3 linked regions of the Homo sapiens genome follow. The protein of the gene in region 1 purifies or fractionates together with the protein of each later gene. This does not show direct contact. Each region holds a gene or a part of one and is shown in the gene's direction. Other genes may lie near its edges. The genes, in order: LURAP1L, SNTB2 and SNAP29.

The links.
Region 2: the proteins of LURAP1L (region 1) and SNTB2 purify together in Homo sapiens (affinity purification with mass spectrometry; 3 studies listed by BioGRID and IntAct, with this or other methods). This does not show direct contact.
Region 3: the proteins of LURAP1L (region 1) and SNAP29 purify together in Homo sapiens (affinity purification with mass spectrometry; 2 studies listed by BioGRID and IntAct, with this or other methods). This does not show direct contact.

Annotation. Positions count from the first base shown.
Region 1 is NC_000009.12:12,781,387-12,785,037, forward strand, and holds part of LURAP1L (leucine rich adaptor protein 1-like), read left to right. Parts: intron 1-3,651.
Region 2 is NC_000016.10:69,185,634-69,189,384, forward strand, and holds the start of SNTB2 (beta-2-syntrophin), read left to right. Parts: upstream 1-1,530; 5' UTR 1,531-1,533; coding exon 1,534-2,113; intron 2,114-3,751. UniProt on the Homo sapiens protein: Adapter protein that binds to and probably organizes the subcellular localization of a variety of membrane proteins. May link various receptors to the actin cytoskeleton and the dystrophin glycoprotein complex.
Region 3 is NC_000022.11:20,861,856-20,865,506, forward strand, and holds part of SNAP29 (synaptosomal-associated protein 29), read left to right. Parts: intron 1-3,651. UniProt on the Homo sapiens protein: SNAREs, soluble N-ethylmaleimide-sensitive factor-attachment protein receptors, are essential proteins for fusion of cellular membranes.

The DNA of each region.
Region 1 (3,651 bases):
ATTCCACTTCCCCCCAGCTCGCTACCCCTTCCCAGCCTCTGGTAACCATCATTCTACTTCCTAGCTCCATGAGTTCAACTGTTTTCATTTTTAGCTCCCACGAATAAGTGAGACCACGCCAAGTTTGTCTTTCTGTGCCTGACTTATTTCACTTGTCACGAAATCCTCCACTTCCATCCATGTTGTTGCAAATGACAGATTCTAATTCTTTTCTTCTGGCTGATTAGTACTCTATTGTGCGTACGTACAACATTTTCTTTATCCGTTTGTCTCTTGATGGACACAGGTTGCTTGTAAATCTTAGCTATTGTGAATAGTGCTGCAATAGACACAGGAGTGAAGATATCTATTTGATATATTGATTTCCTTTCTCCTGAGTATATACCTAGTAGTGGGATTGCTGGATTATATATTAGTTCTAATTTTATTTTTTTAAGGAATCTCGAAACTGTTCTCCATAGTGGCTATGCTAATGTACATTCCCACCAACAGTGTACAAGGGTTCCCTTTTGTCCATATCCTCACCGGCATTAATTATTGTTTGTTGTTTGGATAAAAGCCATTATAACTGGGGTGAGATAATATTTCATTGTAGTTTTGATTTGCATTTCTCTGGTGATCAATTATGTTGAGCACTTTTGAATATACCTGATTGTCATTTGGATGTCTTTTGAGAAATGTCTATTCAGATCTTTTGTCTATTTTTTAATCAGATTATTAGACATTTTTCCTACTGAGTTGTTTGAGCTACTTATGTATTCTGCCAGTTAATTCCTTGTCAGATGGGTAGTTTGCAAATATTTTCTCCCATTTCATGGGTTGTCTCTCCACTTTGTTGGTTGTTTCCTTTGCTGTGCAGAAGTTTTTAACTTGATGTGATCCCATTTTTCCATTTTTGCTTCGGTTGCCTATGCTTATGGGATATTCCTCAAGAAGTCCTTGTCCAGAGCAATGTTATAGAGAGTTTCCCCAATGTCTTCTTTTGGTACTTTTATGTTTTAGATGTAAGTCTTTGATTAGATTTTGTATATGGCAAGAGATAGGGGTCTAGTTTCATTCTTCTGCATATGGATATGTAGTTTTGGCAGTACCATTTATTGAAGAGACTATCTTTTCTCCAGTGTATGTTCTTGGCATCTTTGTGAAAAATGAGTTCACTGTAGGTATGTGAATTTGTTTGTCAGTTCTCCATTTTGTTCCATTGCTCAGTGTGTCTGTTTTTATGCCAGTATCATGCTGTTTTGGTTACTATAACTCTGTAGTATAATTTGAAGTCAGTTTTGTTCTTTTTGCTCTGGATGACTTTGGCTATTCAGGTTCTTTTCTGATCCCATATAAATTTTAGGATCTTTTTTCTATTTCTGTGAGGAATGTTACTGGTATTTTGATAAGGATTACATTGAATCTGTAGATTGCTTTGAGTAGTATGAACATTTAAAAAATGTTGATCTTCCAATCCATGAACATGGAATATCTTTTCATCTTTTTGTGTCTTATTCAATTTCTTGCATCGGTATTTTATAGTATTCATTGTAGAGATCTTTTACTTCTTTAGTTAAATCCTAGGTATTTAATTTTATTTGCAGTTATTTTAAATGGGATTACTTCTTGATTGCTTTTTCAGATTGTTTGCCGTTGGCATATAGAAATGCTACTGATTTTTATGTTAATTTTGTATCCTACAACTTTACTCAACTTATCAGTTCTAATGATTTCTTGGTGGAGTCTTCAGGTTTTTCCATATGTAAGATTATATCATTTGCAAATAAGAATAATTTGACTTTTTTTCTTCCCAATTTGGATGCCCTTTATTTCTTTTTCTTGTCTGATTGCTCTATCTAGGACTTCCAGTACTATGCTGATAAACAGTGATGAAGTGGGCATCCTCCTTATTTCCAGACCTTAGAGGAAAGCCTTTCAGTTTTCCCTCTTTCAGTATGATACCAGCTGTAGGTCTGTTTATATGGCTTTTATTGTGCAGTGGTAGATTCTTTCTATACCCAGTTTTTTGAGTTTTTATCATAAAGAGATGCCAAATTTTATCAAATGCTTTTCCAGTATCAACTGAAATTATCATATGGTTTATTCCTTCATTCTATTGATATGATGTATCACATTGGTGGATTTGCATATGTTGAACAGTCCTTGCATCCCTGGGATAAATTCCACTTGGTCATGATGAATGATTATCTTAATGTGTTGTTGAATTAGGTTCACTATTATTTTGTTTTGGATTTTTGCATCAATGTTTATCAGTGATATTGGCCTATACTTTCTCTTTTTTTGATACGTCTTTGCTTGATTTTGATATCAGGGTAATACTGGCCTAATAGACTGAGTTTAGAAGTATTCTCTCCTCTGTTTTTTGGAATAGTTTGGGTAGGATTGTTCTTCTTTAAATGTTTGGTAAAATTCAGCAATGAAGCTATGAGGTCCTGGGCTTTTTTTTTTTTTTTAATAATTTTGCATGCTTCATTCTTTTTTATTCTTTTATTTTGTCTCCCTCACTGTATATTTTCAATTAGCATGTCTTCAAGCTCACTAATTCTTTCTTCTCCTTGATCAGTTCTGTTGAGAGACTCGAATGCATTCTTCAGTATGTCAATTCAATTGTTTAGCTCCAGAATTTCAGCTTGATTTTTAAAAATTATTTCAATCTAATTTACATTTCATTTTACATTTTCATTATGGATAGGATTCTGAATTCTTTCTCTCTGTTATCTTGATTTGTTTAGCTTCCCAAACCAGCTATTTTGAGTTATCTGTCTGAGAGGTCACATATCTCTGTCACTCTGGGATTGGTTACTGGTGCCCTTATTTAGTTCATTTGGTGAGGTCATGTTTTCCTAAATGATCTTGATGCTTTTGAGTGTTCATCAATGTCTGGGTGTTGACAAGTGAGGTATTTATTGTAGTCTTCATAGTCTGGGCTTGCTTGTACCTGCCCTTCTTGGGAAGGCTTTAAAGAAGTATTTAAAGAAAATTGAGTGTTCAGATCTAAGTATTTGCCTATTGCAGCCATATCTGCCCAAGCCCAATAATAGTATGACTCTTGCAGACTAACAGAGGTAGCACTTTGGTGGTGTGGGGTACTATATGACAGAATTCCCTGGATTACCAAATAGAGACTCTTGTTCTCTTACTTTACCCCAAACAAACAAGTTTCTCTCTGTGCTGAGCTTCCTAGAATTGGAGGAGGGGTGACACGAGCACCTCTGTGGCCACCACTACTGCAACTGTGCTGAGTCAGACCTAAAGCCAACACAGTACTTGATGTCACCCGAGGCCTGTGGCAACTATTGCCTGGTCACCACTGATGTTTATTTAAGGCCCAAGGGCTCTTTAGTCAGCAGGTGGTGAATCATTCTAAACTTGTATTTTTCCCTTCAAGGTGGTGAGTTCCCTTCTGGCCCAGGGTGGGTGTAGAAATGCTGTCTGGGAGGGAGGGTCTGGAGTCGGGAACTTTAGGAATCTAGAATCTACTTGGTGCTTTATTTTACTTGGTAAAGCTACTTGGTAGCTGAGCTGATACCCAAATTCTGAGTCAAAGTCTTTTTTACTCTCCTCTCTTATTTCCTCAAGCAGAAGGAGTTTCTCCTCATGGCCACCACTGCCCTAGGCCCATGGCAAGTACTGCCTGGCTACCACTGA
Region 2 (3,751 bases), on another chromosome or scaffold:
CCTCTGCCTCCCGGATTCAAGCGATTCTCCTGCCTCAGCCTCCTGAGTAGCTGGGATTGCAGGCGCCTGCCACCACACCTGGCTAATTTTTTGTATTTTTAGTAGAGACGGGGTTTCACCATGTTGGCCAGACTGGTCTATAACTCTTGACCCCAGGTGATCCACCGCCTTGGCCTCCCAAAGTGCTGGGATTACAGGTGTAAGCCACTGCACCCGGCCCAGACTTTCTTTTTCTTTCTTTCTTTCTTTCTTTTTTTTTTTTTTTTTTTGAGGCAGAGTTTTGCTCTTGTTGCCCAGGCTGGAGTGCAATGGTGCCATCTCAGCTCACCGCAATCTCTGCCTCCCAGGTTCAAGCAATTCTCCTGCCTCAGCCTCCCAAGTAGCTGGGATTACAGGCATGTGCCACCACGCCCGGCTAATTTTTTGTATTTTTAGTAGAGATGGGGTTTCTCCATGTTGGTCAGGCTTGTCTCAAACTCGTGACCTCAGGTGATCCGCCCACCTCAGCCTCTCAAAGTGCTGGGATTAAAGGCTTGAGCCACCGCGCCCGGCCCAGACTTTCAATCTCAGGTTTATACCACTGATTCTGGGTCTCAGGCCTTTGGGCTTGGATTGGAAGTGCACCACCAACTTTCCTGGGCCTGCAGTTTGCAGATGGCAGATCGTGGGACTTCTCAGCATCCATAATCTCGTGGCCAGTCCCTTGTAATAATAATAAATTTATATATCTCTATATATCCTATTGGTTGGTTTCTCTGAAGAACCCTAAGACACCATCATTCTGCAAATATCCTTGAGGCCTGCCAATTGTGGCTTCAGGGTTTAAGAAGACATGGTTCCCTCTTGAATTACAGGCAAGTAAACGAGATTACAAAACATTGACAAAGGCTTGGATCATGCTGTTGGACCTTTGCTTGAGCTGTTCACCGTCCGTTGTTACCTCTGTGAAGCTGACCCCAGGCCTAACCAAATGTTCCTTTTATGCTGTTCTGGGGACGTCTTCTGCATGTCACTTAACCACATAGTATCACACCTAGTTGGTTGGTTCTGCATTTTCCTTCCCCACTAGACCGCAAACTCTCAGCTGTTGTTGGTACTATTGAGCTTAAGTACAGGGCCTCAAAAGGAGCCGGAGTACAGGGCTAAGCGCTCAGTACACAGGGTACGAACCAATCAATGCAAGAATGAACGTGCCACCGGGTCTTGCAGGCTTGAGAAGTGTTTCTCCAAGCTGATTTTGCTTTCCGTGCCCGGGCAGCTCCCGTGAATTGCACGGTAGAGGTCAGGAGTTTCTGGGGGGTCCGTGGGGAGCCAATGGAAGGATGAGGAGAAATGCAGTCCCACCGCATTCGGGTTGCCCACGTCCGGCGAGAGGCGAGTGATCGGACAACTTCTGCACCTCCCGGAAGCGGCTGCGCCGGCCCCGCCCCTCCAGAGGCAGGCGTGGCCTCATGAATAATGAATCGTGCGGGGGAGGGGCCGGGCCCGCCCCTCCGGGCGGGAAGAGGGAAGCGCCGAGGCTGCCTGACTGGAATGAGGGTAGCTGCGGCGACTGCGGCGGCTGGAGCGGGGCCGGCCATGGCGGTGTGGACGCGGGCCACCAAAGCGGGGCTGGTGGAGCTGCTCCTGAGGGAGCGCTGGGTCCGAGTGGTGGCCGAGCTGAGCGGGGAGAGCCTGAGCCTGACGGGCGACGCCGCCGCGGCCGAGCTGGAGCCCGCTCTGGGACCCGCGGCCGCCGCCTTCAACGGCCTCCCAAACGGCGGCGGCGCGGGCGACTCGCTGCCCGGGAGCCCAAGCCGCGGCCTGGGGCCCCCGAGCCCGCCGGCGCCGCCTCGGGGCCCCGCGGGTGAGGCGGGCGCGTCGCCGCCCGTGCGCCGGGTGCGGGTGGTGAAGCAAGAGGCGGGCGGCCTGGGCATCAGCATCAAGGGCGGCCGCGAGAACCGGATGCCGATCCTCATCTCCAAGATCTTCCCCGGGCTGGCTGCCGACCAGAGCCGGGCGCTGCGGCTGGGCGACGCCATCCTGTCGGTGAACGGCACCGACCTGCGCCAGGCCACCCACGACCAGGCCGTGCAGGCGCTGAAGCGCGCGGGCAAGGAGGTGCTGCTGGAGGGTGAGCGGGGCCGGGCGGGAGGGTGGGCAGGCCGCGGCGGCCTGGGCTCGCGGGAGCTCACTTTGTTCCTGCCCCGCCGGCGGGGCGAGCCGGTTCTCTCCCCGTCTCTCTCCAAACCCGGGTTTCTGGAGCTTTCAGTGTGGAAAAACGGATGCTTCTTGCAGGAAAAGTTGGGCAGCCGCCGAAGTGTGGCTTGCAGCCCCTAGGGAAGACTCGGCTGAGATTGAGTAAAAAGCAGCTGCCTATGAAGCCCCACCTCGGCCCGATAAGCTGACACTAAGAACTTGAGGGAGAGCGAACGGCTCGAGTGGGTCTGTCTCCGTTTGCCCGCTGAGAAGTGCCGGGTTGGCGCTTAACTCACTCACCTCTGGCTCCTCGGGGCGGGCGGGTCTATTAAAAAAAAAAAAAAGTCCATCTTCACCGATGCCAGCGGTATGCTCGGGCAAACCACCAAAGCGCTGGTTAATTTATGGGAATTTAACCCATCATTGGCTCTCAACAATAACCAAAGGAGATCATAGCATTTCATTGAAGCCAGAAAGCTGAAACAGCAAGTCTGTGTGGTTAACGAACCTTGTTTAACAGTGGAGGCTCACGTGTTTGAACATTTACTGCCAACTAGAGTTTTGCCCCTTTTGCAAGTCTGCTGCCAGCTTCCTACCACTCACAGGCGCGCTGCTTCAAGACTCTTGGGGTTTTTGTAAGAAACTTGAAATGGCAAATCACAAGATAGGTTTCAATAACCAGGATTATTCTTTACGTTAAGTTATATGTATGTGATCTGTAAGTTGGATCTTTCATGATGAATTTGAACTAAGGCAAAAATAAAATTCCTCTCCTCTAAGGACTCATGCATGTTGGAGGTGATAGAGTATTGTAAATTATAAACGAAAAGTCAGCTGCTTTCTTCAGAAATTTTTGAGCGGTCAGCTTTCTTTCACTGGTGATTATGGCTAGCTGTGTTGAAAAGAATATAAAAGAAGATGCTGTCCCTACTTGGTCTCTAGTTGGAGAAATGATAGAAAAATGCAAAACAACTTATAGGGAGGAAAGGAATGAAGTTGGTGATTACGTCGTGAAACTATACTTAAATGCCAAAGGAATGCAAAGTTAGAAAATAGTTAGTGGAGATGGAATTAGCCAGGGAGGACTTTTTCCCGAAGCTGAATCTTGAGCCAGGTCTCCAAGAAGTGATGGACATAGGCAGGCAGGGATGAGTCAGGAGGGTATTCCTGGCAGAGGAAGGACAGAAGGGAAGGGCTGGGGGCTGCTGGTGAAGAAGGACCAATCGTCAAACCGAGAGGCCAGAAGTCCAACTTGGCACAATGGATTTTCACTTTCTTATAAATCAGCTTGTGAATATTTGGAAAAATACTGATTTACCAGAAATGATTTCATGTACACCAGTTGTGAAGTTCCAGTGTCCCACCTTTATAATATCCTATTTATAAACCTTATTTATATTGCATGTCTAGGTGGGGCTAGACATTGCTCGGAAATTAGTGTTAATAGAAGGAGTAAAATTATAGATTGTGGTTTGGGTGTGTGTCCAAAAAAAACTGTTACTCTAAACGTGTACCTTGAAGTTGGTCTAGCTAAGCATTTGGTTATAAATTCTTACATCCAGAATATTGAATT
Region 3 (3,651 bases), on another chromosome or scaffold:
AACTCCTGACCTCATGATCCACCTGCCTTGGCCTCCCAAAGTGTTGGGATTACAGGCGTGAGCGACCACACCTGGCCTCTGATTTTTGTATTTTTAGTAGAGACAGGTTTCGCCATGTTGGGCAGGCTGGTCTCAAACGCCTGACCTTAGGTGATCTGCCCACCTCAGCCTCCCAAAGTGCTGGGATTACAGATGTGAGCCACTGCGCCCGGTCCTAACCTTGTTAGGGAGGTTTTGCCTGTAGTTCTTACATCTCATACCTACTGGATTCCTATGTTCCATTCTAAATGGGAAGTCTTGGCTTAGATTTGAGAGGATTGCCTGAGGTTTTAGGGCCCTGGTGAATGGGTCACATGATTGAGGATCTCAAGCCCAAGGAATTCAACTAACAACTATTTAAGGAGACATCTTTGTAAACTGAGAACAAATGAAGTAGGGAATCAATGATTCAAAGTAGGGCATTGTGGCAGAGGATAAACTTGAATCTAGCTTTTAAGGCTGAGGTTTACACAAGAGGAGTGAGAATGAGGGATGTTCTTAGGGAAGACAGGAAAATATGCAAATGCACTGGCCCAGCAACAGAGCTCCTGGGTCCAGAGGAGGGACATGATAGACTGGGTGTGTTAGAGGACAGGGGATGGAGGAGGTAGCTTAGGAGCCCTTGGAGGTCATAGGGAAAGTTCTGGTCTCATAGCGCAGGAGAGGCAAAAATGTAATAGTGGTGAGTTTGATATAGATTGTGATGACATGCCCCGTGCTGCCCCCAAAGGTCTTTCTATGCAGTGGGGACAGTGAGAGCTGAGGCAGAGTGGCACTTCAGGCATATCAGGCTTGGCCAGGCCAGGCATTGCTGTGAGAAGTACAGTGTGGTCATGACTGGGCAGGTGACAGGTGCTCTTGTCAGTGAGACAACATGTTGGAATTTTCCAGGATTGGGTCAGTTCTCAATTATGAGAAGCCCTGGGAGTCAGGGATGACCTACATCTCCACCACACCCAGTGTTCTCCAAGCTGTCTTTGTTTTTGTGTTTTGTTTTGGGGGAGGTTTTTTGAGATGGGGGTCTCACTCTGTCAACCAGGCTAGAGTGCCGTGGTGCAATCTTGGCTCACTGCAGCCTCTGCCTCCAGGTGCAAGTGATCCTCCTGCCACAGCCTCCCAAGTAGCCAAGACTACAGGTGCACGCCACCACACTCGACTAATTTTTGGTATTTTTGGTGGAGATGGGCTTTCGCCATGTTACCCAGGCTAGTCTCGAATTCCTGAGCTCAGATGATCTGCACACCTTGGCCTCCCAGTGCTGGATTACAGGCTCCAAGCTGTCTTTGAATCACTCTAATCACTCTTTCATTCCCTTTGGTGTTGGGATGGGAACAGAGGAGTATGAGCTCTTCCAACCCTCAGTGCACAGTGTGGCTTCCAGCAAATTCCAGCATACCCTGCTAATCACCCAACTTAGGTGCCTGGTTACCCCAGCACTGTGAAACATGCCAACACATGACAGATTTATGTCAAAGATGAGGACTTTACAAATTATATTAGGTTGGGAAGATTATAATTCAGTCCCAGCTTGGCAGGAAAATGGCTTAGTTAAGTCACCTCTAGCAAAGAGAGCTGCCCTTCTCCTACTGTGAAACCTGGCAAGGATTGTTTCTCACAAAGGCTCAGGCCACAGGCTATGACCACAAAAGAACAGAGGAGAAGTAGTGGGAGCAGGGCGGTTTCCCCAGGCCGACCTGGTAGGCGCTTTGTAGAACTACAGGGAGACTTGTAAGCCACTCGTCTCTTTCCCTGTTTAGTAAGCATGATTTCTTCTTTTTTTTTTCCTAAGGTTTAATTTTTATGAAGAGAGATTCCAATCACATGGTTCAAAATTTCAAAACATACAAAAGGGTGTAGTCTTCTCCCACTTCCCTCCCTATCATCCCTCTGCCCCTAAGGCAGCCAGGCACTTTCCCTCCTTCAGTGTTTTGGGGAGATAATGCCGTGGATAAAAATGGGTTTTTTTTTTTAAGTGAAGTATTGTATACATTCTGGTCTGCATGTGCTTAATAGAATGGAGTTTGTTCCACACTAGTATGTAATGAGCTGGGCTTTCTTTTTGGCTGTGTTGTATTCCATTGAACAAATGACTTCTATTTATGCAGCCTGTCCCCTAATGATGAGCATTGAGGTTGTTTACACCTTTTGGTGAGTCTATTTGCATCCTACTTGGACATGGTTTTTGTACACCTTTTCATCACTCCAGTGGAGGAGACTCACCTGCCCAGGACACTCTGCTTCCCCTCTTGTAGCTGAACTTAACTCCACTGAGGTTTTCTGGGGCCCGAGATCTCGGTTCAGGGGAGTCCAGCAACAAACATTAGACCAGGGTTGGAACGGCTGGCACAGTAACATCAATGGAAAGGGACAGAGTTTGAGAGTTCAAACGTGATGCACTCAGCAGCCACCGCCAGCACATCCTCCACACCGTCTCGTGCAGGGGCCCACCCATCTCTGTGTCTTTCCAGCACACAACAGTCACCCACACTGGGCATTCCATTCAGAGGTGGGAGAGAGGAGGACACCCCTCCTGGCCCAGGAGCAGAGGCCATCAAGGTGTCCCCGGAACTTAGAGTAGATACATTGCCAAAAGGTGATATCCTCATTCTCAGGGATTCTGGTCTTGGAGCAGCCCACTCCAAATGAGGGGCCGTACAGACCAAAGTCACCCCTCTGAGGCAGCGTGTGGTGATACTGATGCAGCCAGAGTTCTTAGCAAAAGTTGATGGATGGGGACAAGCAGCTGCTAGATTAAGTAATTCCTCAAATTTGTAAATGTCAGCAGTGGAAGAGGAGCAGTCTCTTACCCATCTCTTGCTCAACTTTCTACCCCCACGCTTCTCAGCACAATGTCCTTAAGCGTTATTGGCGCTCCCAAAATAGTTGCCAAATGAATAAGTGACCTGGGGAAGGAAAGGAAGGAGGGAGGGAACAGAAGATTGCCTGAAAAAGGAGGAGAGAGTTGGGTGGAAAGAATGCATTGAGCTGTGTGCCTTGGTTGCAATGCCTGTCCTGTGACCAGAAAATGCATCCCAACACATGTCAGGCTGTGTCTAGCAGGTGGGAGGGAGTCTGGTGGAGAAATGGCATTGGACCACATACTCACCGCTAGGTCTGTTCGGGATTTATTTTTAATTAATTTTTGGTAAACTATCAATGATTGAATTTGACCATTGATGGCCAGGTGTGGTGGCTCACACCTGTAATCCTAGCACTTGGGGAGGCTGAGGCAGGTGGATCCCTTGAACCCAGGAGTTCAAGATCAGCCTGGGGAATGTGGTAAAACCCTGGCTCTACAAAAAATACAAAAATTACCTGGGCATGGCGGTGCATGCCTGTAGTTCCAGCTACTCAGAAGGCTGAGGTAGGAGGATCTCTTGAACCAGGGAGGTCAAGGCTGCAGTGAGCTGAGGTCATGCCACTGTATTCCAGCCTGGGTGACAAAGTGAGACCCTGTCTCAAAAAAAAAAAAGAATTAGACCATTGATCCCAGGCCAATTTGCTGGCTTGTTGGCTGTAACAGGATGCCTTCTGAGGATGGGCTGGTTGTTCGAGCTTCTGGCTTCTCCTTCCTGGGCACATCCACTCACAGCTGCCACATTGTCCCAAGGA